Linked DNA regions of Homo sapiens: regions 1, 3 and 4 are each linked to region 2. Evidence: fine-mapped QTL for protein levels in blood plasma. A gene starts in region 2. Each other region holds a variant in brackets. All regions are shown on one strand. Distances are between the middles of the regions. Region 1 has its middle 7.8 kb from the start of HSPA12B. Region 2 holds the start of SIGLEC1 (sialic acid binding Ig like lectin 1). Region 3 overlaps SIGLEC1 (sialic acid binding Ig like lectin 1). Region 4 holds the start of HSPA12B (heat shock protein family A (Hsp70) member 12B).

What was found. PIP is the posterior inclusion probability: the model's chance that the variant is causal. Protein levels are from antibody-based Olink assays in UK Biobank. Linkage for the fine-mapping came from a reference panel and not from the study's own genotypes, which makes the PIPs less certain.
Region 1: its variant is fine-mapped to the plasma level of the SIGLEC1 protein (UK Biobank, PIP above 0.99).
Region 3: its variant is fine-mapped to the plasma level of the SIGLEC1 protein (UK Biobank, PIP above 0.99). The variant lies in the coding sequence of SIGLEC1. If it changes the protein, the assay may bind it differently, which can mimic a change of level.
Region 4: its variant is fine-mapped to the plasma level of the SIGLEC1 protein (UK Biobank, PIP above 0.99).

Annotation. Positions count from the first base shown.
Region 1 is chr20:3,720,963-3,728,895 of GRCh38, reverse strand. No RefSeq gene overlaps it. Among named protein-coding and RNA genes, the nearest start is that of HSPA12B, 7.8 kb to the left of the region's middle. The variant C/G (reference allele first, on the strand shown) is at 4,428.
Region 2 is chr20:3,708,243-3,716,175 of GRCh38, reverse strand. It overlaps SIGLEC1 (sialic acid binding Ig like lectin 1), which reads left to right and starts at 3,576. Exons shown (of 22, transcript NM_023068.4): 1 at 3,576-3,706.
Region 3 is chr20:3,687,126-3,695,058 of GRCh38, reverse strand. SIGLEC1 (sialic acid binding Ig like lectin 1) reads left to right here. Exons shown (of 22, transcript NM_023068.4): 12 at 136-396; 13 at 527-838; 14 at 1,361-1,612; 15 at 1,928-2,197; 16 at 2,287-2,538; 17 at 2,857-3,156; 18 at 3,459-3,719; 19 at 4,795-5,097; 20 at 5,357-5,459; 21 at 5,832-5,904; 22 at 6,440-7,933. The coding sequence ends at 6,499. Among named protein-coding and RNA genes, the nearest start is that of ADAM33, 9.1 kb to the right of the region's middle. The variant G/A (reference allele first, on the strand shown) is at 3,660.
Region 4 is chr20:3,730,597-3,738,529 of GRCh38, reverse strand. HSPA12B (heat shock protein family A (Hsp70) member 12B) reads right to left here and starts at 5,845. Exons shown (of 13, transcript NM_052970.5): 1 at 5,736-5,845. RefSeq lists an enhancer at 5,204-5,783. The variant G/A (reference allele first, on the strand shown) is at 4,408.

The sequences.
Region 1 (7,933 bases), 13 kb before region 2:
GGCTCAGCCTTGGTGGCTCCCTGCTGTTGCTGCTCTGTCAACAGCTGGTTCCTCCTCCTTCATAAAAAGAAAGCCTTGAGGTCCCACCTTCCTGCTGAACCTCCCCAATACCCTGTCCCAAATGGCACCCAAAGCCAGGTCCAGCCAGGATTGGACCTACCTCCCACACCTCTGTACTGACCCCCCCACTTTTGGCTTCGTCTCCCAGTGTGATGTGAGGGTTCCCAGCAGACAGGTGGAGACTTCTTGGAGGAGGTGGCTCTGGATCTGAGCCTGAGGGGTGGCTGAGAGTATACCACATGGAGGAGCGGGAAGGGCACTCCTGGTGGAGGAGATGGTACAGACAAAAGTGCAAAGGGTGGCACGGGCAGGAGGCAGAGTGGAGCCGATGTGCTTGGTGGCCAGCCGGTTGAAGGGCTGGGTGACTTTGCCCCTGGTGCTTTCAGTAGAGACCTGCCCTTGTGTCCTACTCTGCTGACATTCTGTCCCCTTGGACAAGAACTCTCAGCTGCATTTGCTCCACCTGGACATCTTCTGTTTGGGGTTTTCAGTGTTTCCTCCAGACCAGCTGGAAATTCAGCTTCCTTGTACAATTCTCTCTGCTCACCCTTGACTGAGCTTGGGTGAGACCTCCCCTTGCCAGTGAGCCCACCCCACAGAATTGCCCCTCTGCTAGGGTATGGGGTACAGAAAAGGAACAAGACTAAGGGAAAGGAAATGTTAGGGGGAGATGCTCTTTTTATTTCAGCCACATCAAGCATGAGGAGGTTGTGGGGCTGCAGTGTAGCCAATGCTGGTTATCCTCCCCCAACCCAGTCTATTCTCATTTTCCTAAGAACAGAGCGCTCTCTTTTTAGTCATGCATACGGTAACCCAGCAGAAACAGTATATTTCCCAGCCTTTCTTGCTTCTAGGTGTTGCCACGTGACTAAGCCTGGCTAATGAGATATAAACGGAATTGTTATTTAGCATCTTCCAGGAACCTTCCTTGAAACAGCTGGAGGGCGCCTGTGGTTCCTCCTTCCTCAGCCTGTTCTTCTCCATTCTGTTGCCTGGAATGTCAGTGGGAGGACTGGTCCTTCAGTCACCACTTTGGACAGTGTGGTTGAGGGACACACCCTGGAGATAGCAGAGGGGCAGCCTGCAAGGAGGCGGAGCCCCCCAGCAGTATCCCTATTCCAGCCTAGGGCTGTGTACTTCCAGACTTTTCAGCACAAGAAAAAGAAAGTCTTTTGTTTAGGACTCTGAATTTTCAGTCTCTGTTAGTCACAGCAGAATATAATCCTATCTGATTCGATCCCACAGAGAAAATGTTGACTAGGCAATTAGTAGATGGGTCTGGAGCTCAGAGTGGAGTTTGGGATTGCGGGTAGAAATTTGGCAGTCGATCTCCTGGAGGTGGAAATTGAAGACACGAGGACGATGAGCTCACCCAGGCGGAGCGTGTGGTGTGAAAGAGAAGGGAAGGGAAGAGAGGGAAAGAGATGAGCCTGCTTCCCTCTGCCCACTGCCCCCATCTTTCCACAAAAGAGGATTCTGGCTTTGTGTGCTCAATTTCATCCACCCCCTTCCAATATCATAAGAGGAGGCTTCTGCCTCCCCAGAACTCTGCTTGGTTTTTATGATGCAGAATCAAAATGGAGTGGGTTTGAGGGGAGGACAAGAAGTGGATAGATAGGTTGGGGGAAGGTTTTTTTGAGTTTTTAAGGAGAAAACGGTAAAAGCAGCTATGGTGTGTGGTAAAGCAGATAGGAGAAGAAAAGGAAGGGGCTTGAGAATGTGTTGCCATTTAGTATGAGTATCCTTTTGACAGTATGTCAGAAAACATGCAAGCCAGGCAGGGTGCAGTGGCTCACGCCTGTAATCCCAGCACTTTGGGATGCCGAGTCAGGTGGATCACAAGGTCAGGAGATCGAGACCATCCTGGCCAACATGGTGAAACCCCGTCTCTACTAAAAATACAAAAATTAGCTGGGCATGGTGGTGTGCGCCTGTATTCCCAGCTACTCAGGAGGCGGAGGCAGGAGAATTGCTTGAGCCCAGGAGGCAGAGGTTGCAGTGAGCCAAGATCGCGCCACTGCACTCCAGCCTGGGTGGCAGAGCAAGACTCCGTCTCAAAAAAAAAGAAAAGAAAACACACAAGCCAGATGTCGTGGCACACACCTGTAGTCCCAGCTAGGAAGGAGGCTGAGGTGGAAGGATCGCCTGAGCCCAGGAGGTTGAGGCTACAGTGAGCTGTGACTGTGCCACTGCACTCCAGCCTGGGTGACATAGGGAGGCTCTGACTCTAAAATAAATTAATTAAATAGAAAAAAAAGAAAAGAAAAGAAAACACACAGAACTTGACATTTGTTGCAGCTGTCTTTTTTTTTTTTTTTTTTTGAGACAGAGTTTTGCTCTTTCACCCAGGCTGGAGTGAAGTGGCATGATCCCGGCTCACTGCCACCTCTGCCCCCTGGGTTCAAGCAATTCTCCTGCCTCAACCTCCCAAGTAGCTGGGATTATAGGCGCTCGCCACCACACCCGGCTAATTTTTATATTTTTAGTGGAGAGGGGGTTTCGCCATGTTGGCCATGCTGGTCTCGAACTCCTGACCTCAGGTGATCCACCCACCTCGGCCTCCCAAAATGCTAGGATTACAGGCATGAGCCACTGTGCTTGGCTGCAGCTGTCTTTTGGCTGCTGTCTTCTCATAACACCACTCTGAGACAGGTCCACTTGGTTAATGATGTTAGTTAAATGTTCCACAAGTAACAAAAACTCATTAGAGCACATGAAGGAAAGGAGAAGTTGATGTCAAGGATCCAGGGTTTGTATGTAGGGGCAGGTGGGGACATCTGGGCTTCCTGAGGGCTGGGAACAGGGAATTGAACATATGCCAGGAGCCTGGGAGCTGCCACCATGACCACTTTCCTCTCCCTGTTGTTCATGGACTCTCCTCTGTCCTGCTCTCCTGCTAACTTCATCTTCTCTTGCTGCAGATTGCCTTTTAAAATTTTATTGTATTTTTATTTATTTATTTTAGAGACAGAGTCTCACTCTGTCACCCAGGCTGGAGTGCAGTGGCACCATCATAGCACACTACAGCCTCGAACTCCTGGGCTCAAGAGATACACCCTGCTCAGCCTTCTCCCATGGTGCTGGGATTACAGGCGTGAGCCACTGCCCCAGCCAGACTGCCTTTTAAAAATGGACATTTTAGACCAGGCATGTGGTTCAACCCTGTAATCCCAGCACTTTGAAAGGCTGAGGCGGGCGGATCACCTGAGGTCAGGAGTTCTTGACCAGCCTGGCCAACATGGCGAAACCCCATCTCTACTAAAAATACAAACATTAGCCAGGCGTGGTGGCGCATGCCTGTAGTCCCAGCTACTTGGGAGGCTGAGGTGGGAGAATTGATTGAACCTGGGAGGTAGAGGCAGGAGAATCGCTTGAACTAAGGAGGCAGAGGTTGCAGTGAGCAGAGATTGTGCCACTGCACTCCAGCCTGGGTGACAGAGCAAGATTCCCTCTCAAAAAAAAAAAAAAAATTGACTTTTTATTTTATTTTTATTGTTTTCTAAGAGACTTTATTTAAAAAAAAAGTTTTAGATTTATAAAATTATTGAGCTGTAGTACAGAGTTCCCATGTATCCCCTCCCTCACACGCAGTTTCCCCATTATTAACATCTTGGATTAGTGTGGTACATTGTTAAAATTAATGAACTAATATCAATACATTGTTGACTAAAGCACATAGTTTACATTAAGAATCACTCTTTGTGTTGTACTTTCTATGGGTTTTGACAAAAGCATATCATGGATCCACCATTATAGTATCATATAGAATAATATCACTGACCTAAAATTCCCGTGCTCCACCTATTCATCCTTTCCTGTCCCCAGAACCCCCGGCAACCCTTGATCTTTTTACTGTCTGTAGTTTTGCCTTTTCCAGAAAGTCAAATAGTTGAAATCACACAGCACGTAGCCTTTTCAGACTGGCTTCTTTCATTTAGTAATATGGATATTACTTTTTGTGGCTTGACACGTCTTTTTTTATTGCTTAATGCATATTAATATTACTAAATGCATATTTAGTATGCATATTACTTTTTGTGGTTTGCTAAGTCTTCTTTTTATTACTTAATGATACTCCATTGCACAGATATACCACAGTTTGTTTATCCTTTCACCCATTGGAGAGCTTCTTAGTTGCTTCCAGTTTTTGGCAATTATGAATAAAGCAGCTATAAACATTCTTGCGCAGGGTTTTGTATGGATATAAGGTTTCTCTCTCTCTTTTCTTTTCCTTTTTTATTTCTTTCCTTTCTTTCTTTCTTCCTTCCTTCCTCCCTTCCTTCCCTCCCTTCCTTCCCTTCCTTCCTTCTTTTCTTTTCGTTTCTTTTCTCCTTCCTTCCTTCCTTCCTCTCTCTCTCTCTCTCTCT[C/G]TCTTTCTTTCTCTTACTCTGTTGCCCACGCTGGAGTGCAGAGGCATAATCGTGGCTCACTGCAACCTCAAACTCCTGGGGCTCAAGTGATCCTCAGCCTCAGCCTCCCCAGTAGCTGACACTACAAGTGTGTGCCACCACATGTGACTAATTAAAAAAATTTTTTTTTGTAGAGACAGAGTATCACTGTGTTGCCAGGACTGGTCTGGAACTCCTGGCCTTGGCTGAGCACAGTAGCTCACACCTGTAATCCCAGCACTTTGGGAGACCGAGGCAGGCAGGTCACTTGAGGTCAGGAGTTCAAGACCAGTCTAGCTGACATGGTGAAACCCTGTCTCTACTAAAAATATAAAAATTAGCTGGGCATGGTGGCGTGCACCTGTAATCCCAGCAGCTACTCAGAGGCCGAGACAGGAGAATCGCTTGAAGCCGGGAGGCAGAGATTGCAGTGAGATGAGATCACTCCACTGCACTCCAGCCTGGGTGACAGAGCGAAACTCTGTCTCAAAAGAAAATAAATAAATAAATAAATAAAAAGAAAGAACTCCTGGCCTCAAGCAATCCTTCCTCTTTGGCCTCCCAAAGTGATGGGATTACAGGTGTGAGCCACTGTGCTCGGCCCTGGATATAAGTTTTCACCTCAATTGGGTAACTATCTAGGAGTGTAATTGTTAGATTGTATGGTAAGACTATGTTTAGTTTTGTAAGAAACTGCCAAACTGTCTTAAAAATGGCCATACCATTTTACATTTCCACCAGCAACGAATGAGAGTCCTGTCACTCCACATCCTCACCAGCATTTGGTGTTTTTAGCATTCTGGATTTTGACCATTTTAATAGGGGTTTAGTGGTACCTTGTTGCTTCAATTTGTAATTCCTTAATGACATCAGGTTAAGCATATTTTCATATGCTTATCTTCCATCTGTATATCTTCTTTGATGAGGTGTCTGTTCACATCTTTTGCCCATTTTTTTTTTTTGAGACGGAGTCTCACTGTGTTGCCCAGGCTGGAGTGCAGTGGCGCGATCTTAGCTCATTGCAACCTCCCTGGTTCAAGCTATTTTCCTGCCGCAGACACCCAAGTAGCTGGGACCACAGATGCACGTCACCACGGTCGGCTAATTTTTGTATTTTCAGTAGAGACGGTTTCACTATGTTGGCCAGGCTAGTTGAGAACTCCTGACCTAAGGTGATCTGCCCTGCTCGGCCTCCCAAAGTGCTGGCATTACAGATGTGAGCCACCGCCACCATGCCTGGCCCGTTTGTCCATTTTTTAATGGGGTTGTTTGATTTCTTAGTGTTGGGTTTTAAGAGTTCTTTGTGTATTTTGGGTCATCAGATATTTGTTTTGCAAATATATTCTCCCAATCTGTGGCTTGTTTTCTTATTCTTTTAACAATTGCTTTTTTGTTGTTGTTGTTGAGACAGAGTCCCACTCTTTCGCCCAGGCTGGAGTGCAGTGGTGCAATCTCGGCTCACTGCAACCTCTGACTCCCAGGTTCAAGCAATTCTCATCCCTCAGCCTCCCAAGCAGCTGGGATTACAGGTGCACACCACCACGCCCAGCTGATTTTTGTATTTTTAGTAGAGACGGTATTTCACCATGTTGGCCAGGCTGGTCTCGAACTCCTGACCTCAAGTCATCTGCCTGCCTTGGCCTCCCAAAGTGTTGGGATTACAGGTATGAGCCACTGCACCAGGCCAACAAATACTTATTTATTTATTTATTTATTTATTTATTCTCCATGTATACGACCGTTCCACATCTCGTGAATTTAGTTGCCCAATTCCAGCTACCAGCAGATTTCAAATATAGCTAACCCTTGAACAACATGGGGGTTGGGGGCACTAATCCTCCTCATCATCAAAAATCTGTGTATAACTTTTGACTCAAATACTTAATTACTAATAGCCTTCTGTTGACTGGAAGCCCTACTAATAATATAAACAGCCAATTAACATATATATTTATGCATTCCTGACCTACCTAACTCTGTTTCAGTTTTTTTTTTTTTGATATTTCTAGCTATGTGGTTTGTGAGTTTTTTCAAATTGTCACATCTCTCCAAAATTTTTTTCAATATGTTTATTTTTTTAAAAATCTGTGTATAAGCAGACTAGCACAGTTCAAACCCATGTTGTTTAAGGGTCAGCTGTAGTGTCTCTTAGTCCCAATTCTAATATTTTTAGAAGAGACAATTATTGACCAGTTTGGTGAAGTGGAGAATCAATGATGGCTGAATGAGGTGGTAGCATTAAGGTAGCTGGAAGGGAATCTGGGTGATATAAATTTAGTTTTCTAGCCTCTGCAGTACAGGAAGACGAACTGGAAGGAGGCAGGAATGATTGCTCAACCCTCCATATAAACACAGCAGTTGATGCCTGGTGGATGGTTGGGGGCTGTGGATATGACGTAGTACATGTAGGTTAAAAAAAAAGTTCAACATATACAGAGAGATGAAACAAAATGCAAAATTTTCTACCCCGCAGTTCCACTCTTCCGCCCTCTTTTCATTTTTATATATTCTGGAGTTTTCTTCTTCTTCTTCTTTTTTTTTTTTTTTTTTTGAGAGAGGGTCTCACTCTCATTACCCAGGCTGGAGTACAGTAGTGAGATCCTGAATAACTGGGACTACAGGTGTGCACCACCATGCTTTGCTAATTTTTTGTATTTTTTTTTTTTTTAGTAGAGATAGGGCTTCATCATGTTGCCTAGGCTGGTCTCAAACTCCTGGGCTTAAGTGATCTGCCCACCTCGGCCTCCCAAAGTGCCAGGATTACAGGTATGAGCCACCGCGCCCAGCCTTTTCTGGAGTTTGAACATCACTCCTCTAAACAATATACTTTATCTTTGTTTCTCAATTTAGTAACTCAAGAGAGCATCTACTGACACCTCATCATTAAAGCAGGGAATGGAAATCACCCATTCCCATCTCCCCGCCCATGTCTGTTTTCTCAGTTTTGTTTGCTGTGTGATTACTGGAGTCCTGTGTTGGTGCTACTTATAGTTCTAAACAATCTATATTTAAAATTTCGTTCCTCATACATCAATTTTAGAAAGAATTTCTTGAGCCCTATCACTATGTAAGAAAAATTGTGCCTCCCCCAGCCCCAGGTCACCTGCCATCTCCCTCTAATTTCTGCTGTCTACTTTTCTTTTCTTTTCTTTTCTTTTTTTTGAGATGGAGTCTTGCTCTGTTGACCAGGCTGTAGTGCCGCGGCGTGATCTTGGCTCACCACAAACTCCGCCTCCTGGGTTCAAGTGATTCTCCTGCCTCAGCCTCCCATGTAGCTGGGACTACAGGTGCGTGCCACCATGCCTAGCTAATGTTTGTATTTTTAGTAGAGATGGGGTTTCACTATGTTGGCCAAGCTGGTCTCAAACTCCTGACCTTGTGATCCACCCGCCTCGGCCTCCGAAAGTGCTAGGATTACAGGCGTGAGCCACTGCGCCTGGGCTCTTTTTTACATTTTCATGGTCAAAGTTTGTAACATTTGCATGCTG
Region 2 (7,933 bases):
ATAAGCAGCAATAAAGTGTACAATTTAAAGAATTACCTTTTTTGTTGTTGTTAAGAGACAAGATCTCACTCTGTCACTCAGGCTGGAATGCAGTGACACAATTATAGTTCACTGCAGCCTCAAGCTCCTGGGTTCAAGTGAACCTCCTGCTTCAGCCTCCTGAGTGGCTGGTATTGCAGGAGTGACCCACCACATCAGCAATTTAAGGAGTTATCTTAAAGTAGAGGGCATGGCCTACTTTGTCCTTTCCTCCATCCTGCTTTCCCGAATGCAGATACAGTGGCTGGAGCGCAAGCAGCCACTTTGGACAATGACTGGAAGCAGCCCATTGACAATGACTGAGCCAAAAAATAAAAAGGGATCTAGTTTCATGATTGTGGAGTTGTCATATCATCTTGGATGCCAACACTTACTTGAGGGAGAGGGTGAAACACTTCTATTTTATTTAAAACACCGTTATTTGGTGTTTTCTATACTTGTAGCAAAACTTATTTTTTTTCAACCAAAAAGTTTTGTCTTTGGCAAATTCTCTAACCTCCCTATGACTTGGTTTTCCTATCTGGAACGAGAATAATTCACTGGGTATGGTGGCTCATACCTGTAATCCCAGCACTTTGGGAGGCCAAGGTGGGTGGATCACTTGACTGGGAACTCTCAGGAGTGTGAGACCAGCCTGGGCAACATGGTGAAGCCCCATCTCTACAAAAAAATACAAAAATTGGCTGCGTCTGGTGGTACTCACCTGTAGTCCCAGCAACTTGGGAGGCTGAGGCAGGAGGATCACTTGAGCCTAGGAGGTCAAAGTTGCAGTGAGCCGAGATTGTGCCATTGCACTCCAGCCTGTCCAGCCTGGGTGACAGTGAGACCCTATCTCCAAAAAAAAAAAAAAAAAAGAAAAAGAATAATTGTTATTAGATGAATGTGTAACAGTGTGACCTACTGAGAAATTACATTTTTTAAAATATTTTGAGGCAGAGTCTCGCTCTGTCATCCAGGCTGGAGTGCAGTAGTGTGATCTCGGCTCACTGCAATCTCCACCTCCCGGGTTCAATCGATTCTCGTGCCTCAGCCTCCTGAGTAGCTGAGACTACAGGCGCCTGCCACCAGGCCCAGCTAATTTTTGTATTTTTCGTAGAGACAGGGTTTCGCCACGTTGACCAGGCTGGTCTTGAACTCCTGGCCTCAAGCGATCTGCCCACCTCGGCCTCCTAAAGTGCTGAGATTACAGGCGTGAGCCACCGTGCCCAGCCTACCTAGTTATTTTTATTTATTTACCTAGTTTGCTGTATACTCAAGGAAATGACAGGAAGCAGTGCTCCCTGACTAATCAAGGTAGACAAGTCTTTGCTCTCCTCATGCTAAGGAAAGGTAAGCAAGTTCTGGGTGTGTTGTTCTGGGACTTAGGCCTTGTATCATCTTGCTAATGTAGCCACAAAATTCTCAGCAGCATCCAGCAATAAATTCACGCATCCACAGGTTGACTGGTCTGGTGGACGTAGGCTGGGCTCAGCTGAGTTTTGTTTCAATCCATGGGTCTGATTCAGGTCATCTGCATGTGTTCGTCATCCTCTTTGGACCAGCAGGTTAGTTGGAGCCTGCCCCTTGCATGGCAATGACAGAAATTCAGGGGGAAAGGCAAACTGCTTAAGTACGTTTCAAGACTTAGTTTGTGTCATGTCCGTGCACATCCATTGGCCAGAGCAAGTCATATGACTAAGGTCAAAGTCAAGGGATGCTTTCCCACCATGAAGCCAAGGGGTGGATGTATAGAGTCCCAGTGGACTGAAGGATTGGTACCCATGTGTCACAACCCCACAGGCCTAGAGCTGGGTGTCTCCGGACCAGCTGTTGAGGGAGGAAGTAATGGGATGAACCCTTTGTGTTTTGGCCGAAAGAGGAAATGGCCCAAGCATAGGAGTGGACACAGGAGCTATAAAGAGGAACAGAGTGATAGAGACCTAATATCTCTGTAGCCTGAGCATTTCAGGGTGGAATGTCACCAGACATCTGCTTTGGGGCACCATGGCCTGCGATTCTGGATCCACCCTGATTTAGGGTTTCACATCCTTTTACACCTGCACACGTGGCCTTGCCCTCAGGGTACAGGGGCCTAATTTGCTGTGGCCAGCTCCCCACCAGTACAGGTAGGCAGGGACTGAGTTGAATTAAGTTTGAGTTGTGAAATTAAAAAAAAAAATGGCCAGGAGTGGTGGCTTACGCCTGTAGTTCCAGCACTTTGGGAGGTCGAGGTGGGAGAGTCACTTGAGCCCAGGTGTTTGAGACCAGCCTGGGAACATAGGGAGACTCCGTCTCTACAAAATAACTTAAAAAATTAGCCGTGCATAGTGGCAAGCGCCTGTAATCCCGGCTTCTTAGGAGGCTGAAGCAGGAGGATTGCTTAAGCCTAGAATTTCGAAGCTGCAGTGAGCCAAAGTGAGCCAAGATTGCACCAGGACACCCCAGCCTGGGCGACAGAGCAAGACACTGTCTCAAAAAACAAAAACAAACAAACAAACAAAAACCAAAAAAAGTCTTGTTGCTTGTATCTGGGATTGCTTGGAGCAATTAACATCTGCTTCACATGTCAAGTGCCTGCACAAACTAGGCCCTCAATAAGATGGGCTGCAGTAATGTAACAGTAACTAGCTGTGGTGGGGGCTTTCCTTTCCTGTCCCAAGGTGGGGGTGAAGGTATAGGATAGTGGCCGGGTGCAGCGGCTCACCTCTGTAATCCCAGAACTTTGGGAGGCCGAGGCAGGCAGATTACTTGGGGTCAGGAGTTCAAGACCAACCTGGACAACATGGTGAAACCCCGTCTCTACCAAAAATACAAAAATTAGCCGGATGTGGTGGTGCATGCCTGTAATCCCAGCTACTCGAGAGGCTGAGGCAAGATGATCACTTGAACTCGGGAGGTGGAGGTTGCCGTGAGCTGAGATTGTGCCACCGCACTCCAGCCTGGACGACAGAGTGAGACTCCATCTCAAAAGCAAAAACAAAACAAAAAGAAAAAAACCAACAACAAGAAGCCAAAAACCAAAAAACGTACAGGACAGTGAGAGGGGAAAGAGAAAACCTGAGGAGTGTCCTGGACATTGGGGCCTTATGTCCCCCACAACACGGGACTGCCTCTTGGGGGTTCTTAAGAGTACTCAGTGGTACAGGGAGGCTCCTGAATGGCTTGGAGAATAACTGCCTTGGTCTGGGCATCGTGTAGTGCATCCCCACCCCAGGCTGGGCGCGCCTCCCTCTCAGGTGTCAGGGAGGAGAGCTGTGTGCAGGAAGCCCCCTTCCACCTCCCCCAGCCTCCCTAAGGGGCTCAGAGAGAGTGGGGTGTGGATTTGGCTGGTGAATGGGAGTCCCCCACTCCATTTCTCACTTTGCCTGGGGAGGCTCCAGCGTTGCAGCGGTCCCACTTCTGCTTGCTGGAGTCCCTAAGTCCCTGGCCTTGCCGAGGGCCTTCCCCTATGGAGGTCTTTCCCGTTTTGGCATTGCGCAAGGCCTGCAGCTGCCTCCCTGACCAGCCTCTGGGTTGGACAGTAGAGCTGAGGCTTTGGGAAAGAGGAAGCAGCCCCTGATACGGGATCCTTCTCTCTTGAGCCGGCAGAGCCCTGGGGAGCCAGCTGCACCAGGAGCTCTTGGCCGTCCTTCCTGTTCTCCTCTCCGCAGGTCCAGCACCGCCGCAGCCACTTCCTTCTGTGGAGCAGGTACCCCTGTCCCTGGTCCCTGGGCCCAGAGGGTGAGTGGAGCATTAGGAGCGGGGCTGGGCTGAAACTGGCTGAGCGGGATAGGGGCAGGGGTCGGGGGGGGGCTCCATCTGGGTGCGAGTGGTGGACCCCAAACCAACCCAAGTCCAAGACACTAATCAAAGATGGACTCAACTGAAACCCTTCCACCACCCCCAAATCCTTCCAACCTGCATCCCAATCCCAGTCCCGACCATCACCCTGCTCTGACCCTACCTCAGCCCCAGCCCCAGCCCCTATTCCAACCTTATCTCACCCTCACCTCACTTGCACCCCAACCCTAACCATTTACTCATCTCATCTAATCCCAACCATCCATCATCCCAACCCTAACCACAACTCCGACTCTATCATCCTCATCTCAACCCAGCCTCCACCGTATCTTAACCATCACCTGCACCCAACTCCAACCTTCACCCTTACCCCCACCCATCACTCAACCTCAATGTCCACCCCAATCCCAGCCTTAATTTGCTTCCAGAATTCCAACCTGATCATCACCCTGACCTCAGCCCCAGCCCAGCCCAACGATAATCTCTCCTTACTCTAACCCCAGCACAATTCCACTTCATCCATCACCACTTCGTCCGTCCACAGGAGGGCTTCTGGTGCTGTCCAGCACAGTTTGGAGAGTGAGCACTCCAGCCAGAAGCATTTAGAGCCAGATTAAGGAATGAAGTGTGAAATTTCTACTGCCCATGTCAAAGCCAATAAGCATTAGTTATGGATTCTATGGCTCTGAGAATTAAACATTTGGCCTGTGATTGGGGATTTCCACTATTTTGACCATAATCTGCTCCAGGAATTGCCCATCCGTACCCTGACTCCCTATCTGTGGGCCAGTAACCTCCAGCTGGCCATGTCACCCTGTGTTCTTCCTTCTCTAGCCCAATGGGGAAGTTGGGGAGAAGCCTTGGTGTCAGGAAACAGAAACTGAATCCTACACCCGGGCCTAGCTGTCCATAGGGAAACTGCCTCTGCCCTTTCTTCCCCAGCTAAACTTGGCCTCTGGAATCAGAGGTCAGGGACTTGGGGCCCCAGCCAACCCTCCAAGACCTCCTGAGGCACTTGGTCTCAAACAGGCAGCAAACGTGAGTGCCCACTGTGTACCAGGCCAGCTCAAGCCACCCTGATGCAACACATACCAATAGTAGGAGTGGGGATTTAAAATCCTGTCTTCAGAGCACCCAAGACTTGGAGACCCAAGTATGAACCTCAGGAACCTCCTGTCTGGGGAACAATGATTTCCAAAAGAGTCACCCAAGGGAGGGATGGTTCAGGGCTGCAGAGCTGCCTGCTCCCTGTTGCTGGCACACCGCCCCCTTTCCCGGGACCCGCAATTCCCCCTCGACCACCAGGGGGCGCTGCGTGCTCACTAGGCCACAGCTGCAACCCAAGTTGCGGGGGGCGGGGGGCGGGGCACTGTCCCCTCAACTCCAGGCTTTCAAACAGGGACAGAGATCTCCTTTCTGAGCGGTCCCTGCTCTTTCTGTTTCCAGAACAGTTATCTGGGCTGAAGCTGGCCTTTGTGGTGACAGGCTGAGCCAATAGGCTGGATTCCGGTGGGGCTGACCCCTTTGGGGTTAGGGCCGGGCTAAGCATAGGTGGCCTCTACATTATGTGATGGGAGTGGTCCTGGAAAGGGTCCTCCCCCGCGCCCTGTTCCAGGGTCGCTGTGTCCAGAACCCCACCATTCTTCCATCAGGTTCACGATTGCCCTTTTCAGGACCCCAAATGGGAGGAACAGGGGAGCTGGGACAAGATAGCTGCCCTGGCCATAGCAGAGCTGACCCTGACATCCCCTGTGGCCAGGGACACATCTGACCCCCAGTGTGCCCAGCAGGCTGCTTTTCTTCACGGTGAGGTGTCCAGGTCCCAGGGCCCCAGCTATATCATTCTCCAGTGGCCAAGAACCTGGTGTGGAGGCTGGGGGTGCATCTTCCCAGAAGAGGAGGAGGCCTAGGGCTTCCTAGAGAACTGGAGATGAGCCCTTGGGCCTCCATAAATGGCCAGATCAGTCCACTCCAGCAGCCTGCGAGAGGGCTGGGTCCCCTGGGGAGCGGTGTCCTTCCTGTCCCAATCCCGCCCTGTACTGTGCCCCCTGCTGGGGCACCTTCTGCCTTCTGCAGCAGGCTAAGTCCCACCTGGTCAGCCTGACTGGCCCTGGGCCTCGGCTCACCCCCTTCCCAGGTGTGACCCCTGGTAGTCATTGGAATCTGCTGAGCCCAGCCCCTGAGGCGGATGGGCTGGGAGCTGGGAGGTCATGAGTTTCCTGTCCCCACTTCCAGCCTCCTCGTTCACTTGGCCAAGTCAGCATTTAGGACCAGGGAGGATTGCAAAGTTGGCAACATGGGTGTGTATGTGGTGAAATATACATAATGTAAAATTTACTGTTTTAACTGTCTTTAAGTGTACACCCCATGACATTAGGTACATTTGCAATATTGTGTAACCATCACCACTATTTCCAGAACTTTTTCATTATCTGAGAGACTCAGCAATCATTAAACATTAGCTCCCCCTCCCTGCAGCCCCTGGTTACCTCTATCCTATTCTACTTTCAGTCTCTGAATATACGTAGTCTAGATATTTCATGTAATTGGAACCCTACAATATTTGCCCTTTTGTGTCTGGCTGGTTTCACTGAGCATAATGTTTTCAAGGTTCACATATGTTAGAATTCATTCCTCCTTATGGCCGATTGATATTCCATTGTATGTACATACCACAGTTTGTTTATCCACATCCATTCACTGATGGACACTTGACCTGTTTCCACCTTTTAGTGGAATAGTGCTGCCGTGAACATTGGTGTACTCTGTTAGAGTCCCTGTTTTCAGTACTTTTGGGTATATACCTAGGAGTGGAATTGCTGGATCATATGGTAATCCTATGTTGACTTTTTGAGGAATGACCCAATTGTTTTCCACAGTGACGGAACCATTTTATATTCCCACCAGCAATACACAAGAATTTCAACTTCGCATCCTCACCAATATTTATTGTTTTCTGTGTTGCTTTGTTTGTTTGTGAATAGCCATTCTAACGGATGTGAAGTGGTATCTCACTGTGGTTTGGTTTTGATTTGCATTTCCTAATGCCTAGTGATGTTGAGCATCTTTTCATGTCCTTATCAGCCAGTTATATATCTTCTTTGAAGAAATGTTTATTCAAGTGTTTTGCCCATTTTTGGAGTTGGATTTCATGGTTTTTTTGGTGGTTGTTGTTGTTCATTGTAGGAATTCTTTATATATTCTGGATATTAGTCCTTTATCAGATAAATGATTTACAAATATTTTCTCCCATTCTGTGGGTTGTCCTCCTTTTATTCACTCTCTGGATAGTGTCCTTTGATTCATATCCTTTTTTTTTTTTTTTTTTTTTGAGACAGAAGAGTCTCACTCTGTCACCAGGCTGGAGTACAGTGGCGTGATCCTGGCTCACCGTGACCTCCGCCTCCTGGGTTCAGGTGATTCTCCTGCCTCAGCCTCCCGAGTAGCTAGGACTAGAGGTGCACACCACCACACCCAGCTAATTTTGTATTTTTAGTAGAGACGGGGTTTCACCATGTTGGCCAGGATGGTCTCAATCTCTTGACCTTGTGATCTGCATGCCTCAGCCTCCCAAAGTGCTGGGATTACAGGCGTGAGCCACCGCACCCAGCTGTTGTTTGTTCTTTTCAGACAGGGTCTTGCTCTGTCACCCAGGCTGGAGTGCAGTGGTGCAATCATGGCTCACTGCAGCCTCGACCCCTCCCCTGGGCTCAAGCGATCTTCCCACCTCAGCCTCCAGAGTAGCTGGGACCACAGGCCTGTTTTTTAATTTTTCGTAGAGACAGAGTCTTGCAGTATTGCCCAGGCTCGTCTTGAACTCCTGGGCTAAAGTGATCCTCCTGCCTCAGCCTCCCAAAGTGTTGGGTTCACAGGCATGAGCCACTGTGTCTGGCCAAGTTTTAAATTTTGATGAAGTCCAACTTACCTATTTTTTTTTTTCGTGCTTTTAATTTCATACTTAAGAAAGCATTGCCTAATCCAAGGTCATGAAGATTTTCACCTGTTTTCTTCTAAGAGTTTTATAGTTTCACTTATATGTGTTTCTGGCATCTCTTCCTTTTGGGCTCAGGTCTATGGTACCCCTTAGACACTCCCTGACCAGGGGCACTCCATGGTTGAGGGCCTGCCTTTTTGG
Region 3 (7,933 bases), 21 kb after region 2:
TGGCGGTGGTCTGGAAGGGGCTGCGGCTCCAGCACATGGGGTTGGGTTGTGTAGTCCTAGGTGGACACGCACATGGTCCCAGACTGTGAGAGGTGTGGTGGAGAGCCCTCACCTGCTCTTGGTTTTCCCCTGCAGGAGCCTGGGTCCAGGTGTCACCATCACCTGAGCTCCAAGAGGGCCAGGCTGTGGTCCTGAGCTGCCAGGTACACACAGGAGTCCCAGAGGGGACCTCATATCGTTGGTATCGGGATGGCCAGCCCCTCCAGGAGTCGACCTCGGCCACGCTCCGCTTTGCAGCCATAACTTTGACACAAGCTGGGGCCTATCATTGCCAAGCCCAGGCCCCAGGCTCAGCCACCACGAGCCTAGCTGCACCCATCAGCCTCCACGTGTCCTGTAAGGACTTTTGTCCCATCCAGGTGTGGGGGAAGGAATGCAGTCCCCCAGTCCTGGGCTGTGTCACATGACAGAGCCCTGGATGAGGGACCCCCCTGGCTGGGTCCTGACCACTCCCCACCCTGTGTAGATGCCCCACGCCACGTCACACTCACTACCCTGATGGACACAGGCCCTGGACGACTGGGCCTCCTCCTGTGCCGTGTGGACAGTGACCCTCCGGCCCAGCTGCGGCTGCTCCACGGGGATCGCCTTGTGGCCTCCACCCTACAAGGTGTGGGGGGACCCGAAGGCAGCTCTCCCAGGCTGCATGTGGCTGTGGCCCCCAACACACTGCGTCTGGAGATCCACGGGGCTATGCTGGAGGATGAGGGTGTCTATATCTGTGAGGCCTCCAACACCCTGGGCCAGGCCTCGGCCTCAGCTGACTTCGACGCTCAAGGTCAGTGTGTGTGTGTGTGTGTGTGTGTGTGTGTGTGTGTGTGTGTCCTTTAAAAGAGGAGAGGAGGTGGGACAGGGTTCTAGAAGCCTGGGGGCACGGGAATAGTCCCCATTCCCACCCTTCCTAACGATGGTGGACTCCAGACTTGAGTTTCTTAGGAGAACCTTTTATAAACACCAAATTTTACAAGTATGCCCAGTGGATAAAACTAAACAGGGAATTTCAGGAGAAAGTGCAGCAGGGGAGGGGAGGTCTGTGGTCTCCCCATTTGCCCCCAGCCAGGGTCAGGGAGGGGCTCAGGGCTTTCCAGGACTCTGTGGAACTCTACTTGGGACCACTCAGGAGCCAGTGGGCTATTCCCAAGCTTGACTTCTAAGCCACATTTATAGGTGGGCCACCCAAGGCTCCCAAAGGCCAAGGGGCTCCCCAGCAGTAGGAGTAGCTCACCCACATGGAGACAGGTGGCCTGCTGTACACAGCCTCAAGACCCTCACTGGTGTCCTGTGCCCTCCCTCTCCCCAGCTGTGAATGTGCAGGTGTGGCCCGGGGCTACCGTGCGGGAGGGGCAGCTGGTGAACCTGACCTGCCTTGTGTGGACCACTCACCCGGCCCAGCTCACCTACACATGGTACCAGGATGGGCAGCAGCGCCTGGATGCCCACTCCATCCCCCTGCCCAACGTCACAGTCAGGGATGCCACCTCCTACCGCTGCGGTGTGGGCCCCCCTGGTCGGGCACCCCGCCTCTCCAGACCTATCACCTTGGACGTCCTCTGTGAGTCTGGCTGGATGCAGGGTGGGACTCACAGGAATGACAGAAGCCCACAGGGATCACGGCATGGCCGGAACCCGACAGGTGTCCAGTGGGGAACTCGGTACCCAGTAGCTAGTGGAGCACTGGGCAAGGAGCATTAAGAGTAGGGGGCGCTGGGGTGAGTCCTGTCTGGGCAGAGGAGCAGTGCCTCAGACTGGGTGGTTGGGAGCCATAGGGGTGGGGAGCCAGGGCCCTCCTGAGTTTGAATGCCACCTGCAAACTGGCCTCCTGCAGGCTGCTGCCTGTGACTCCGTGTAAGCCTCTCATGCCCTGCAGACGCGCCCCGCAACCTGCGCCTGACCTACCTCCTGGAGAGCCATGGCGGGCAGCTGGCCCTGGTACTGTGCACTGTGGACAGCCGCCCGCCCGCCCAGCTGGCCCTCAGCCACGCCGGTCGCCTCTTGGCCTCCTCGACAGCAGCCTCTGTCCCCAACACCCTGCGCCTGGAGCTGCGAGGGCCACAGCCCAGGGATGAGGGTTTCTACAGCTGCTCTGCCCGCAGCCCTCTGGGCCAGGCCAACACGTCCCTGGAGCTGCGGCTGGAGGGTAAGGCAGGGCCTAGGCCAAGCCCACTGGGATGGAAGCCCACTGTGGTGTCCGGCTGGGCCCGGCTGATCCTGGCCTCCTTGGCACAGGTGTGCGGGTGATCCTGGCTCCGGAGGCTGCCGTGCCTGAAGGTGCCCCCATCACAGTGACCTGTGCGGACCCTGCTGCCCACGCACCCACACTCTATACTTGGTACCACAACGGTCGTTGGCTGCAGGAGGGTCCAGCTGCCTCACTCTCATTCCTGGTGGCCACGCGGGCTCATGCAGGCGCCTACTCTTGCCAGGCCCAGGATGCCCAGGGCACCCGCAGCTCCCGTCCTGCTGCCCTGCAAGTCCTCTGTGAGCAGAGGGTCCTTGGCCAGGGCTGCCCAGGAGGAGGGTGGTGGAGGGTGCTTCTGGGCTCTGGTGGGAGTGGGCAAAGGACTGCAGTGGGCCCAGGAATGGGCAGTTGGGGAAAGAGGACATAGGTGCTAGAGAAAGAGACAGTCCTATAAGCCCTGCCTGGAGCACTCTGCCCACAGGACTCCTGGGAAGGTGTCACTTCTAGGAAGTGGCCATTGGTCCAGAGGCCTCAGCCTGACCAACCCCAGGCAGCTAGGCAATGAGCAGTACAGGGTGCCTAAGCAAGGTCCCCATCTGTGCCCTGCCTGCCCACAGATGCCCCTCAGGACGCTGTCCTGTCCTCCTTCCGGGACTCCAGGGCCAGATCCATGGCTGTGATACAGTGCACTGTGGACAGTGAGCCACCTGCTGAGCTGGCCCTATCTCATGATGGCAAGGTGCTGGCCACGAGCAGCGGGGTCCACAGCTTGGCATCAGGGACAGGCCATGTCCAGGTGGCCCGAAACGCCCTACGGCTGCAGGTGCAAGATGTGCCTGCAGGTGATGACACCTATGTTTGCACAGCCCAAAACTTGCTGGGCTCAATCAGCACCATCGGGCGGTTGCAGGTAGAAGGTGAGTGGAAGAGAGGGGAGGAGGAGGGGCTCTGATGCTCTCAGGTCCAAGTCCACGAGAGGGGCTGGAGCTCCCACTAGAGCGGGCTGTCTGGTCTGAGAAAGCTCTGCCTTGAGAAGCCTAATCTGGTGGAGGGGGCACAGCTCCCACTGGAGGGGGCATGGTTCCACCTTGGAAAGCCCTATACCAAGTCAGACTGAGACCTTCCCACAATGTGCAGAGGCCCCTCAGAGGTCCCACCCAGAGGCTCCAGCCCCCAAGGCCTACAGATCCCCAATCATCTCTCTATCCTCCGCCCGCAGGTGCACGCGTGGTGGCAGAGCCTGGCCTGGACGTGCCTGAGGGCGCTGCCCTGAACCTCAGCTGCCGCCTCCTGGGTGGCCCTGGGCCTGTGGGCAACTCCACCTTTGCATGGTTCTGGAATGACCGGCGGCTGCACGCGGAGCCTGTGCCCACTCTCGCCTTCACCCACGTGGCTCGTGCTCAAGCTGGGATGTACCACT[G/A]CCTGGCTGAGCTCCCCACTGGGGCTGCTGCCTCTGCTCCAGTCATGCTCCGTGTGCTCTGTGAGTGTGAACCCCCTCCTCCGCCTTAGTCTCCCCACATCTCACACGCCCACCTCAGTTCTTCCTCCTCTTCTGTCTGCCAAGAGTGAAGGCTTCACGGATATTGAGTCCTGGGTTGGAATCCTGGCTCTCCCGCTGTCTGGTTGGGTGACCTTGTAAAATGGGGAATACATCATTCGCCTCATCCTGCAAGTTGTATAAGAAATAAATGGCTGGTGCAGGGGCTTATGCCTGTAATCCCAGCACTTTGAGAGGCTGAGGTGGGCGGATCACTTGAGGTCAGGAGTTCAAGACTAGCCTGGTCAATATGGCGAAACTCCGTCTCTACTAAAAATACAAGAATTAGCACGGCATGAAGGCACACACCTGTAATCCCAGCTATTCAGGAGGCTGAGGCAGGAGACTCACTTGAGCCTGGGAGGTGGAGGTTGCAGTGAGCCAAGATCACCACAACGCACTCCAGCCTGGGTGACAGACTGAGACTCTGTCTCAAGAAAAAAAAAAAAAAAAGAAAAGAAAAGAAGAGAAAAAACCAAAAGAAATAAAGCGTGCTGAGTGTGTCTGGCACACGATAAGCCCTCATCAGTCTTGGTCTCCCACTCCAGCCTTCACCAAGGCCTACACTGTATCAGTCAGCTATTGCTATTGACCACAACAAAACTTACTGCTTCAAACAAAAGTCATGTTATCTGCTCAATTCTGTGGGCTGGGCTCAGCTGGGGAGTTCTTCTGTTGTTCACACCTCATGTGGCTGCAGTTGCCCAGTGGTCTCAGATGACTGCACGCTCCTGGCTGCCAGTTGGGCCACATGTGCCCAGCAGGCTGGCCTGGGCTTCCCACATTGTTGTGTTCCAACAAGTAGAGCAGAAGCTACAAGGCCTCTTGAGGTCTGGCTCTGAAGTTGCACAACATCACTTCTTTCTTCAATTGGTCAAACTGAGTCACAGATTCAAGGAGTGAGGAAATAGGTTCTGCCTCTTAATGGGAGGAGCAGCAAAGTCACTGTGCATGGGTACAGGGAGGGAGAAATTTGTGGTCATTGTCTGCAATCACCACACTCCCTTCCTCCCCACAGACCCTCCCAAGACGCCCACCATGATGGTCTTCGTGGAGCCTGAGGGTGGCCTCCGGGGCATCCTGGATTGCCGAGTGGACAGCGAGCCGCTCGCCAGCCTGACTCTCCACCTTGGCAGTCGACTGGTGGCCTCCAGTCAGCCCCAGGGTGCTCCTGCAGAGCCACACATCCATGTCCTGGCTTCCCCCAATGCCCTGAGGGTGGACATCGAGGCGCTGAGGCCCAGCGACCAAGGGGAATACATCTGTTCTGCCTCAAATGTCCTGGGCTCTGCCTCTACCTCCACCTACTTTGGGGTCAGAGGTGAGGGGAGGGGGCTCCATCTCCCAGGCCACTCTGCACAAAAGCCCAGCTCTTAGGCCCAAAGGCTTCCTTCCCTGTATCCCTCCTGCTGCAGCATGATTTGCCTGTCGACTCTAAACTGATTGCTCGGGGCACCCTTGTGTGGAGAGCTTCAGCGATAAAGCAAAAGTTAGAAGGTGTCATCTTGGGTGGGTCCCCTTGGAAGGAAGCACTGGGGGCCTGCAGCTGTGGCTGCTCTGAGTCCCGCTCTGTGTTCCAGCCCTGCACCGCCTGCATCAGTTCCAGCAGCTGCTCTGGGTCCTGGGACTGCTGGTGGGCCTCCTGCTCCTGCTGTTGGGCCTGGGGGCCTGCTACACCTGGAGGTGGGTCTGGAGCTGGGAGTGGGCCAGAAGATTGGGGTAAGGCAGCCCACCTCGTCTTCTCCCCAAATTCCCCCAGGTCCTTTAGGACCTCCTATTAAGTTCACAGGCTGCCTACTTCCCAGACTGCCCCTCCAAATTGGAAATCCCTTCTAGAATTGTCCCTAAATCCTCCTTGCTGTAGTTTCCTTCTTTCCTCCTCTCTGCCCTGGCTGTGCTAAAGCAAGGGCTAGGGAGGAAGACAGAGGAAGCACCCACTCTCCATGAGGTTCCCACGCTCTTGTGGTCTGGAGCCAGCCTGTGGGGAGCGGGAGAGGAATGGGGGCAGGAGGTGGGGAGGGGAGAGGCTCTCTGAGTCCACTCCGGGCCTTGCAGAAGGAGGCGTGTTTGTAAGCAGAGCATGGGCGAGAATTCGGTGGAGATGGCTTTTCAGAAAGAGACCACGCAGGTATCCATTCAACACACACGGGCAGATATAATACCCAGCTAACCCACAGTGCCAACTGGCATCTGGAGACTGCTGTCATTTAGAGGATGGTGCCTGGGACCAAGGGGAGGTTGGGGAGAGTGTGCAGGGAACCAGGAGCCCCTCAGGAGATAGGAGAGCCCTGTTCTGCTCGGGGCAGAGGGAATCCCTGTGTCAGCTGGCGGCTGGCTTAGAGGACTAGGGGAGACTTTCTGGACTTGGCAGCATCCCCTCCATTTCCAAGACACGTATGTTCTGACTCCCCCACCTTTGTTCTGAGGCCTCTTCCCCACTCCCAAGCCTGCCCGTCACCTGGGCAGAAGTGAAAGTCAGTTTCTCCTCCCCTGTGGTGTGTCCCTTCTGCAGCTGATTCACCTGGTAGGCCAGGGCTCCAAGTCACACTTCCAGCCATGCACACTCCCACCAATCCTCTTGGGACCCCACCTGAGGCTGGGGGCCTGGGGGCCTGCCCTGGCTCCCAGAGGCCTCCTGTGACCAGGGTTTTCTCTGTGGGAAGCTCATTGATCCTGATGCAGCCACATGTGAGACCTCAACCTGTGCCCCACCCCTGGGCTGACCAGTGGTGTTGCCTGCCCTCCGGAGGAGAAAGTGGCCAGAATCTGTGATGACTCCAGCCTATGAATGTGAATGAGGCAGTGTTGAGTCCTGCCCGCCTCTACGAAAACAGCTCTGTGACATCTGACTTTTTATGACCTGGCCCCAAGCCTCTTGCCCCCCCAAAAATGGGTGGTGAGAGGTCTGCCCAGGAGGGTGTTGACCCTGGAGGACACTGAAGAGCACTGAGCTGATCTCGCTCTCTCTTCTCTGGATCTCCTCCCTTCTCTCCATTTCTCCCTCAAAGGAAGCCCTGCCCTTTCACATCCTTCTCCTCGAAAGTCACCCTGGACTTTGGTTGGATTGCAGCATCCTGCATCCTCAGAGGCTCACCAAGGCATTCTGTATTCAACAGAGTATCAGTCAGCCTGCTCTAACAAGAGACCAAATACAGTGACTTCAACATGATAGAATTTTATTTTTCTCTCCCACGCTAGTCTGGCTGTTACGATGGTTTATGATGTTGGGGCTCAGGATCCTTCTATCTTCCTTTTCTCTATCCCTAAAATGATGCCTTTGATTGTGAGGCTCACCATGGCCCCGCTTTGTCCACATGCCCTCCAGCCAGAAGAAGGAAGAGTGGAGGTAGAAGCACACCCATGCCCATGGTGGACGCAACTCAGAAGCTGCACAGGACTTTTCCACTCACTTCCCATTGGCTGGAGTATTGTCACATGGCTACTGCAAGCTACAAGGGAGACTGGGAAATGTAGTTTTTATTTTGAGTCCAGAGGACATTTGGAATTGGACTTCCAAAGGACTCCCAACTGTGAGCTCATCCCTGAGACTTTTGACATTGTTGGGAATGCCACCAGCAGGCCATGTTTTGTCTCAGTGCCCATCTACTGAGGGCCAGGGTGTGCCCCTGGCCATTCTGGTTGTGGGCTTCCTGGAAGAGGTGATCACTCTCACACTAAGACTGAGGAAATAAAAAAGGTTTGGTGTTTTCCTAGGGAGAGAGCATGCCAGGCAGTGGAGTTGCCTAAGCAGACATCCTTGTGCCAGATTTGGCCCCTGAAAGAAGAGATGCCCTCATTCCCACCACCACCCCCCCTACCCCCAGGGACTGGGTACTACCTTACTGGCCCTTACAAGAGTGGAGGGCAGACACAGATGTTGTCAGCATCCTTATTCCTGCTCCAGATGCATCTCTGTTCATGACTGTGTGAGCTCCTGTCCTTTTCCTGGAGACCCTGTGTCGGGCTGTTAAAGAGAATGAGTTACCAAGAAGGAATGACGTGCCCCTGCGAATCAGGGACCAACAGGAGAGAGCTCTTGAGTGGGCTAGTGACTCCCCCTGCAGCCTGGTGGAGATGGTGTGAGGAGCGAAGAGCCCTCTGCTCTAGGATTTGGGTTGAAAAACAGAGAGAGAAGTGGGGAGTTGCCACAGGAGCTA
Region 4 (7,933 bases), 22 kb before region 2:
TTTCACCCGTGAACTCTTTAATACATCTCTCCAACAGATAAAGACGTTTTAAACAATGTCATCGCAACACCATTCTCATGTCTAATGAAATTAACAGTAATTCCTTAAATCTCATCTAAAGTCCCACAGTTCCCAGCTTGTGTCAAAAAATGGCTTTACTTTCTTGGAATCAGGATCCTCCTAAATGTTTTCTGGTGCCTGCTCTGTGCCAGGTGCTGGGAGATAGTGACCCAGAGAGACACTGTCCCTGCCCTAGAAACCAACGGTCTGATGGAGGAGATAATCAGGCAAGTGATTTTGAAATGACAAGCGTTGCTGAGTGCTAGGAAGGTCAAAGTTGGATAATGCGGGGTGGGAAGAGGACATGGTAAGTCTGGACAGAGGGCTGGGCTGGGCTTACCCTGCAGGCAGGGCCTGTGCACCCTATTTCAGATTTGATTTTATATGAAGGGCAACAGCAAATCTTGAAAGGTTTGAGGTGGCAGGGTGGGGTGGGGGCATGACTCAATTTGTCTTTTCTTTTTTCTGAGACAGGGTCTCACTCTGTTGCCCAGGCTGGAATGCAGTGGCACGATCTTGGCTCACTGCAACCTCTGCCTCCCAGGTTCAAGCCATTCTCCTACCTCAGCCTCCTCAGTAGCTGGGATTACAGGTGAGTGCCTCCATGCCCAGCTAATTTTTGTATTTTTAGTAGAGACGGGGTTTCGCCGTGTTGGCCAGGCTGTTCTCGAACTCCTGACCTCAGGTGATCCGCCCACCTCGGCCTCTCAAAGTGCTGGGATTACAGGCATGAGCCACCGTGCCTGGCCTTCGTTGTTTGTTTGTTTTGAGATAGGGTGTCACTCTGTCACGAGGAGAACCTACATTTAAAGGCTGAACAGAGGAATATATACCGGCCCAGGAGACTGAGATGCCTCATGGTCTCATGAAGATTGTACCAAGAGATGGGTAAAGCTAGATCCCTGTAAAAGGTCCCCAGATGAGACTGGAAACACTGTTTTAGTGGCCCAAGGGAGGTAAGCTTAGGTGAGGAGTGAGCAAGAGGTGACATGAGCTAGAACTTCTTTTCTTAAGATGGAGTTTCACTCTGTTGCCCAGGCTGGAGTGTAGTGACGCAATCATATTGAGCTAGAATTTCTGAAAAGCTTGGCTGAAATCAGGAATACATGTGAGGGCAGTAGTTGGAGGGCGCTAAAGCTGAAGGGAGGTGAGGAAGAATATTTATTTTCTAAGATGGGAGGGGCTCGATCCTGTCTATGAAGTTCTGGGGCCAGGCTATAGGCAGGATATTTCAAACCATCAACAGCTTTGTTACTCAAAGTGTGGGCTGAGGATCAGCAGCATTGGTATCACCTGGAAGCTTGTTAGAAATGCAGAACCTCAGGCCCCAGCCCAGACCTGCTGAATCAGAACATGTATTTCATATTTATTTATTTATTTATTTATTTATTTATTTATTTATTTATTTATTTTTGAGGCAGAGTCTCACTCTGTCCCCCAGGCTGGAGTGCAGTGGCGTGATCTCAGTTCTCAGCTCACTGCAATCTCCATCTCCTGGGTTCAAGTGATTATCCTGCCTCAGCCTCCCAAGTAGCTGGGGCCACAGGCATGCGCCACCTAATTTGCCTAAAATGCCACCTAAAAATGCCTGGCTAATTTTTGTATTTTTAGTAGAGTCGGGGTTTCACCATATTGGCCAGGCTGGTCTCGAACTCCTGGCCTCAGGTGATCCGCCCGTCTCAGCCTCCCAAAGTGCTGGGATTACAGGCGTAAGCCACCGCGTCTGGCCTATTTTAACAAGATTCCCAGGTGATTCAGGTGCACATTGAAGTTTGAGAAGTGTTGCTCAACAGTGTCTCTCAGCCAGTCTGCAGACCACTGACACTATGTTCTCATTGGTGGGCCTGGCTGCTCCTCTAAACAAAGGAGGAGGCTACGCAGGGCCAATGCATTCCTTCTCTGTCACCAGCGGCCCAATCTGAAAGTTTTGCTATAGAACACAGGCAGACACAGAGCTGGCTCTGGCATGCCCATAGACACATGCACACACCCTTGCTCACACAGTTCACACAAACCAGCCCCATTGTGGACAGACACCTGGACTCCCACACACTCTTGTATGTCCAGGATTCTCCTGCATGGCCAGCACCATGGAGATTTCCAGACACTCTTGCTGTCCTCTGTACCATTGGAGTTGGATGCTCAGGAATCAGAATCAGAAGAAGGATGGGTGCTGGTTGTGGGCATGCATATAGCAGCTGGCTGTTGAGGAGAAAAGGGAAAGCACAGAGAGGGGGAGGGGAGGGTTCTTAGGAGCCAGGGGCAGGAGCCCAGAGCCCAGCTCAGGATGATGGAGTGGGATGCTGAGCTGGGTCCCACCAGCTCATGCGAGCTGATTCTTTCTATCTCTTCCCAATTCTGCATTCAATGACATCACATTGGTAGCTTCAAATCAGTCATGGCTGGGAGTATTTACAAGACAGAAATTGGCAAACACCATAAATCAGGATTTTATCCTTCTTCCAGAGCTGATTGGAAACCATTAACCAGCATACTACTGGATCAAGGTCTCGAGGGAGGAGCTGGCAGCCTTATTTGTATGTTGTTCTGATTCTTCAGCAAACACTTATCGAGATTCTTCATGCCAGGCTCTGTGCTAAGCACTGGGGAACCACTTTGTTGAATGAATGAATGGATTTTCTGGACCGAGGCTATTGTATCTGGAGGAGAAACAACCTAGAACCACCAGAAAAAAAAGACTCTGGGCCGGGCGCCGTGGCTCACTCCTGTAATCCCAGCACTTTCAGAGGCTGAGGCAGGTGGATCACCTGAGGTCAGGAATTCGAGACCAGCCTGGCCAACATGGTGAAACCTTGTCTCTACTAAAAATACAAAAATTAGCCAAGCGTAGTGGCAGACGCCTGTAATTCCAGCTACTCAGGAGGCTGAGGCAGGAGAATCGTTTGAACCTGGGAAGCAGAGGTTGCAGTGAGCCAAGATCGCGCCATTGCACTCCAGCCTGGGCGAGAAGAGTGAGACCCCATCTCAAGAAAAAAAAAAAAAAAAGACTGAGTCCTCGCTCTACACTGGATTCCACATCCAAACCATGGGCCTATACTCTTCCCAGCTATCGGAAGCTTGTCCAGTTATCTACCGTCTCTCATTGTGCGATATGCTGAGTGCCCCTATGCTGGGGTTTCAGGGATGGCAAGAGCCTATTATGGCACCTAGCGTGAGTGCATCATGCCACATCTCTGTGCCTCAGTGCCCTTTCCTGTAGAATGGGTGACACAGAGGGCTTATGTTAACAAGTCCAGATATGCAAGGTATTGATAAAAGCAGGGAGTTGGGCAGGTTTGAGCAGTGTTCTTTCCCTTCATGATGCAGATTCTGAATTTTCTTGTTAGATATTTTGGTCTTACTGAGAATCGCATTCTAGTCATCATGAGTTCTTTAAGGAAGGAGGTAGGAACTAAATCAATCTGTGTTAAGGGCTGGGTGTGGTGGCTCATGCCTGTAATTCTAGCACTTTGGGAGGTCAAAGTGGGTGGATTGCTTGAGCTCAGGAGTTCGAGACCAGCCTGGGCAACAGCAAAACCCCATCTCTACGAAAAATACAAATATTAGCCCAGCGTGGTAGTGCATGCCTAGAGTCCCAGCCACTTTGGACGCTGAGGTGGGAGAATTGCTTGAGCCCGGAAGGTTGAGGCTGCAGTAAGTCATGATCACACCACTGCACTCCAGCCTGGGTGACAGAGTGAGACCCTGTCTCCAAAAAAAAAAAAAAAAAAATTGTGTTAAAGAAGGAGGATCCCACGGATTCCCCGAGAGGTGGAGGTAAGCCAAGAGGTGGCTGACTGCCAAGCGAGCACACACACCCAGGGACACTTAAGGAGAGTGCTGACCACAGAACACGGGACAAGCCCAGCTCCCGAAAGCTAGGTCTGGGCAGAGTCCACAGCTGAAAATGAGGGGAGGCTGAGCCCCGCTTCAGGGGCCTACTAATTTCAGACTGGTGGTGCCTATGGGTTTGAGAGTAATTGAGTGGGACAGTTTGATTTACACAGAAAGGAACTCCATTTCCTGGCTACAAGCACATGCCAAACTCTGGCCCCAGCCTGATCCCTAACCCTGCCCATGGACTGACCCCTAACTCTTGGCTTCATATTGACCTCTAGTCATCAGCTTCACCCTGACCCCTGGCCCTGACTTCTACCCAATAGGCAGGGCCGATTAGTCACTGGGGACCAGGATAGGGTGTGGCCCAGCAGGAACTCACAACCAGAGACTCCCATCCCAGAGTATCCCCTGGTCTTACAATAGCCTAGGACGAACCCTGCCCCCACTCCCGCTCCTTTTTTTGAGACAGGGTCTTGCTCTGTTGCCTAGGCTGGAGTGCAGTGGCAC[G/A]ATCACGGCTCACTGCAGCCTCGACCACCTGGCCTCAAGCGATCCTCCCACTTCATCCTCCCAAAGTGCTGGGATTACAGGCGTGAGCCACCTTGCAGGGGCCCAACCCTTTGCCTGACAGAATCCTCGGAGGATCTCTTCCTGTGTGGGGTGTTTCAGCTGGGCGCTCATGTCCCCAGGAGCACTATGGGAATGCAGTGTTCTGGGTTTCAGGGCTCCACACGATGCCTGTGTAGACAAAGAGCCCACCCAGGTCATTCCAGCTCCCCTCCTCACTAGGACCCTGCCTCTTCCGCCTGCTGCTCTCTGCTCAGCACCCAGCCAGCCCTGTAATGGAACAGGACTCCGTCAGCGGGCTAAGTGAGGCCACAGGCGTTTCTTCCAAGCCACAGACTGGGCCAACCAGGGCCCAAAGCACAGATCAGAAACGGCACCCAAAGGGCTGCCCCACTCTGTTCTGGAGAGGAGCCCTTAAGAAGATGGGACCATGTGTGGCTGAGTGAGGTGGCTGCCCCATCCTGCGCTGGGGCAGGGAGTGACAGAAATGGCCTCCCATGGCCCCTCCCTGTCCTCATCTTTGCTTTCCATACATCCTGCCGCACCCCCTTGGGTCCTCATCATGGGAGCAGCCAGTTCACAAACAACAGAGCCCCTCCCATGCTCTGCCCACAGCCCCCCATTACCCCTCTGGCCTGGGATTCCTGCGCTGCGTCTGCTCTCCGGAGGGTCCCTAGTTTCGTGATCACTCCCTTCCAGTCTCTCTCATCAACACACGCTAACCTCACAGATAGGCTCCACTGCCCTAGCGGGAACCTGGACCCCACCCCACCTGGACCTCAAGCTGGCCCGGAAGACCAGGTCCCAGCCTCAGACCCTGGCACCTGGGCCACTCAGTACTCTGTTGCGCTTCGGGACCACAGGGCCTGGGACCCCTGAGGCACCCCCCAACACACACACATACACTCAACTCCCAGGTTTCCACCTCAGACCTAGGCACCGGGTCCCTCAGTTTGGCTCCCTGGAGCAGGCCCCAGCCCACACCAGTCCTGCCAGCCCCTAAGACACAGGAGTTTCTCCAGCCTAAGCCTCTGAGCAGCTGTGCGAGGGACAGGGGAGGTGGTCCCCCGAAGCCCAGGTGGGAGACCAAGGTCGCTGCCCCAAGTGCCTTCCCGAGCCCGCAGCCACGCTGCAGAGAGGGGCTTGCAGATCTGTCCCCACCAGACAAAGTCTGGAGGTTTTTGGTGGGGTCTCAGCCGACAGCCCGGGACGGCAAACCTCCTCGCCTTTCTCCACTCGGGGCGCCCGGCAGCCCCCGCCCCAGAACTCACCTCCGCCCTCCCGACAGCTCCAGCCCCGTCCAGCCGCCGCGATCCCGGGCCCGCAGCTCGTTGGCCGTGCCCGCTGCGGCGGCCGCAGCCCTCGACGTGCGCCCGGCCCTGAGGCCTCCCGCCTCCTCGCGCCGCCCACCCCGCCCGCCGCCCCCTCCCCCAGGCCGGATGGCCGCGCCGCCTGCGCCGCCGGGTCGGCCCGCGCTCCCGGCCCAGATGTGCGAGGCCGGGGCGGGGCCTGCCTGCGCGGGCCTCCGCCGAGGGGCCCAGCCTGGTCCCGCGTCCAGGGCCCCTCCCTGAGCCCCTCCTGCGCCTCCCCCGCTCCCCTAGCAGCCCAGGGGGTGGGAGAAGGGAGAGGGGGCGGCGGAGGGAGGGGAAGAGGAGTTCCAGACCCTGGTCGGCCTCCTGCGGTCCAGCTGCTGAGGGGCTCCCCCGCCCCGCCCCCACAGGCCCACCTTGGGGCTCAGCCTCGGCCCCTTCAGCGAGGGCCCAACAGCGGAGGGGGAAGGGCCCGCCCTAGACCCCTCCACTTCCCTGCCCCAGACCCCTCCAGTCCCTTGACCCGGAACCCTCTCTCCTCCCACCCCTACTGCCCCTACAGCTTCCCTAGCCCGGTCCTCAGTGGCCAGAAAAGAGGCAGAATTGCGGATGAGGGCAGGCCCTCGGGTCCCCAGGCTAGGCCTAGCTCTGTCTTTGCTCAAGTTCAGACGACGGAGGCGCGGAGTCTCACAGACTGAGGCCCCATGCCCGGCAAGGGGACCACTCCGCACCAGGGGGCACCCAGCCTCTCCTCCGAGGCACACAGCCTTTTTCTTGTCCTAACCGGGGCCCTTCTGGGGATGCTGGGACTTGGCCTCCAGACAGGGGGTTTGTGGGGTGAAGGTCTCTTTCTGGGCTGGGAACCCGTGGCTCATGCCTGTAATCCAGCGCTTTGGGAGTCTGAGGTGGGAGGATGGCTTGAAGCTGGCTGGGCAACAAAGACCAGCCTGGGCAACAAAGGGAGACCCTGTCTCTAAAAAGTTTTAAAAATTAGCCAGGTGTAGTAGCTCACGTCTGTAGTCCTAGGTACTCAGGAGGCTGGGGTGGAGGATTGCTTGAGCCCAAGAGTTTGAGGCTGCAGTAAGTGTGATCACACCACCGCACTCCAGCTTGGGTGACAGAGAGAGAACCTGTCATAAATAAATGAATGAACGGATGAATGAATGAATTTCTGCTAGGTCCCTCGTGGAGCTTTCAAAGGCAGCTGACTCGTTCTGCCTGTTCCCCTTCCCCTCTGCCCCATGTGCCCCCACAGAAGTTCCAGATGCTTCTCAGTCCACCTCCCTTTGTGCCTGGGAAGGCTGCCCGTCAGAGAAGGGCCCCACAGCCCCATCAAATGAGGCACAGTTCTTGGGACATCCCTTTTGCTCTTCCACTCCAAACCTTTGCAAGGGCTATTTTCCCTCCCTGAAATGCTCTCCTTCCTCCTCTCTGCCCAGCCAAAATGCTCCCCAGCTACAGTGTCACCTCCCTAGGCTTGCTGCCTTTCTTCTCAGAGCCACTGCCCCAGAGGGCCTCCTTAATGAGGTCAGGCATGGTGAGTGCGCTGCACCAACAATTCTGGATACCAAGCCAACATGGTATCCAATCAGCAGTCTCCACAGGCCGCCTCCCAGTGTGCGTCTATGTGTGTCCGTCTGTGCATCTGTTGGTGTGTTTGTGTCTGTGCTTAAGTGTGTCTTTGTATGTGTAAGACTTTGCTTATATGTCTGTTCATGTGTGAGTGTGTTTCTTGGATTGTCTGACTGTGTCTGTGTGTGCGCTAGTGTGTGACTGTGTTTCTGTATTACGTGTGTGTGTTGCTGCATCTTGTGTCTTTGTGTCTGTGTGTAACAGGGGTCCTTGGTTGGGGCCTGCAGGCCTGCACCTCGTTTGAGGCTGAGCAGAGCCAGGAGGGATTGGAGTGTGTGTCTGCTGTGCATGTCCTGGGGTCTGCAGGGTCTGGCCCCTCACACTCATGCCTGCCCCTTTTTTCTTTTTCCCTTCCACCTGGTTTCCCTGTCCCCAACTCCAGCTCCAAAGATGGGCTCGTCTCTGAGGGCCACGGCAGCAGGCTCTGAGCAGGGGTGAAGACTCATGGGGGGCGTATCCCCTGTCCTCAGTGCCAGCGCCCTCCAAACCTTCCTGTTTGGAAGCTCCCTCCTTCCCCCACCCCCACA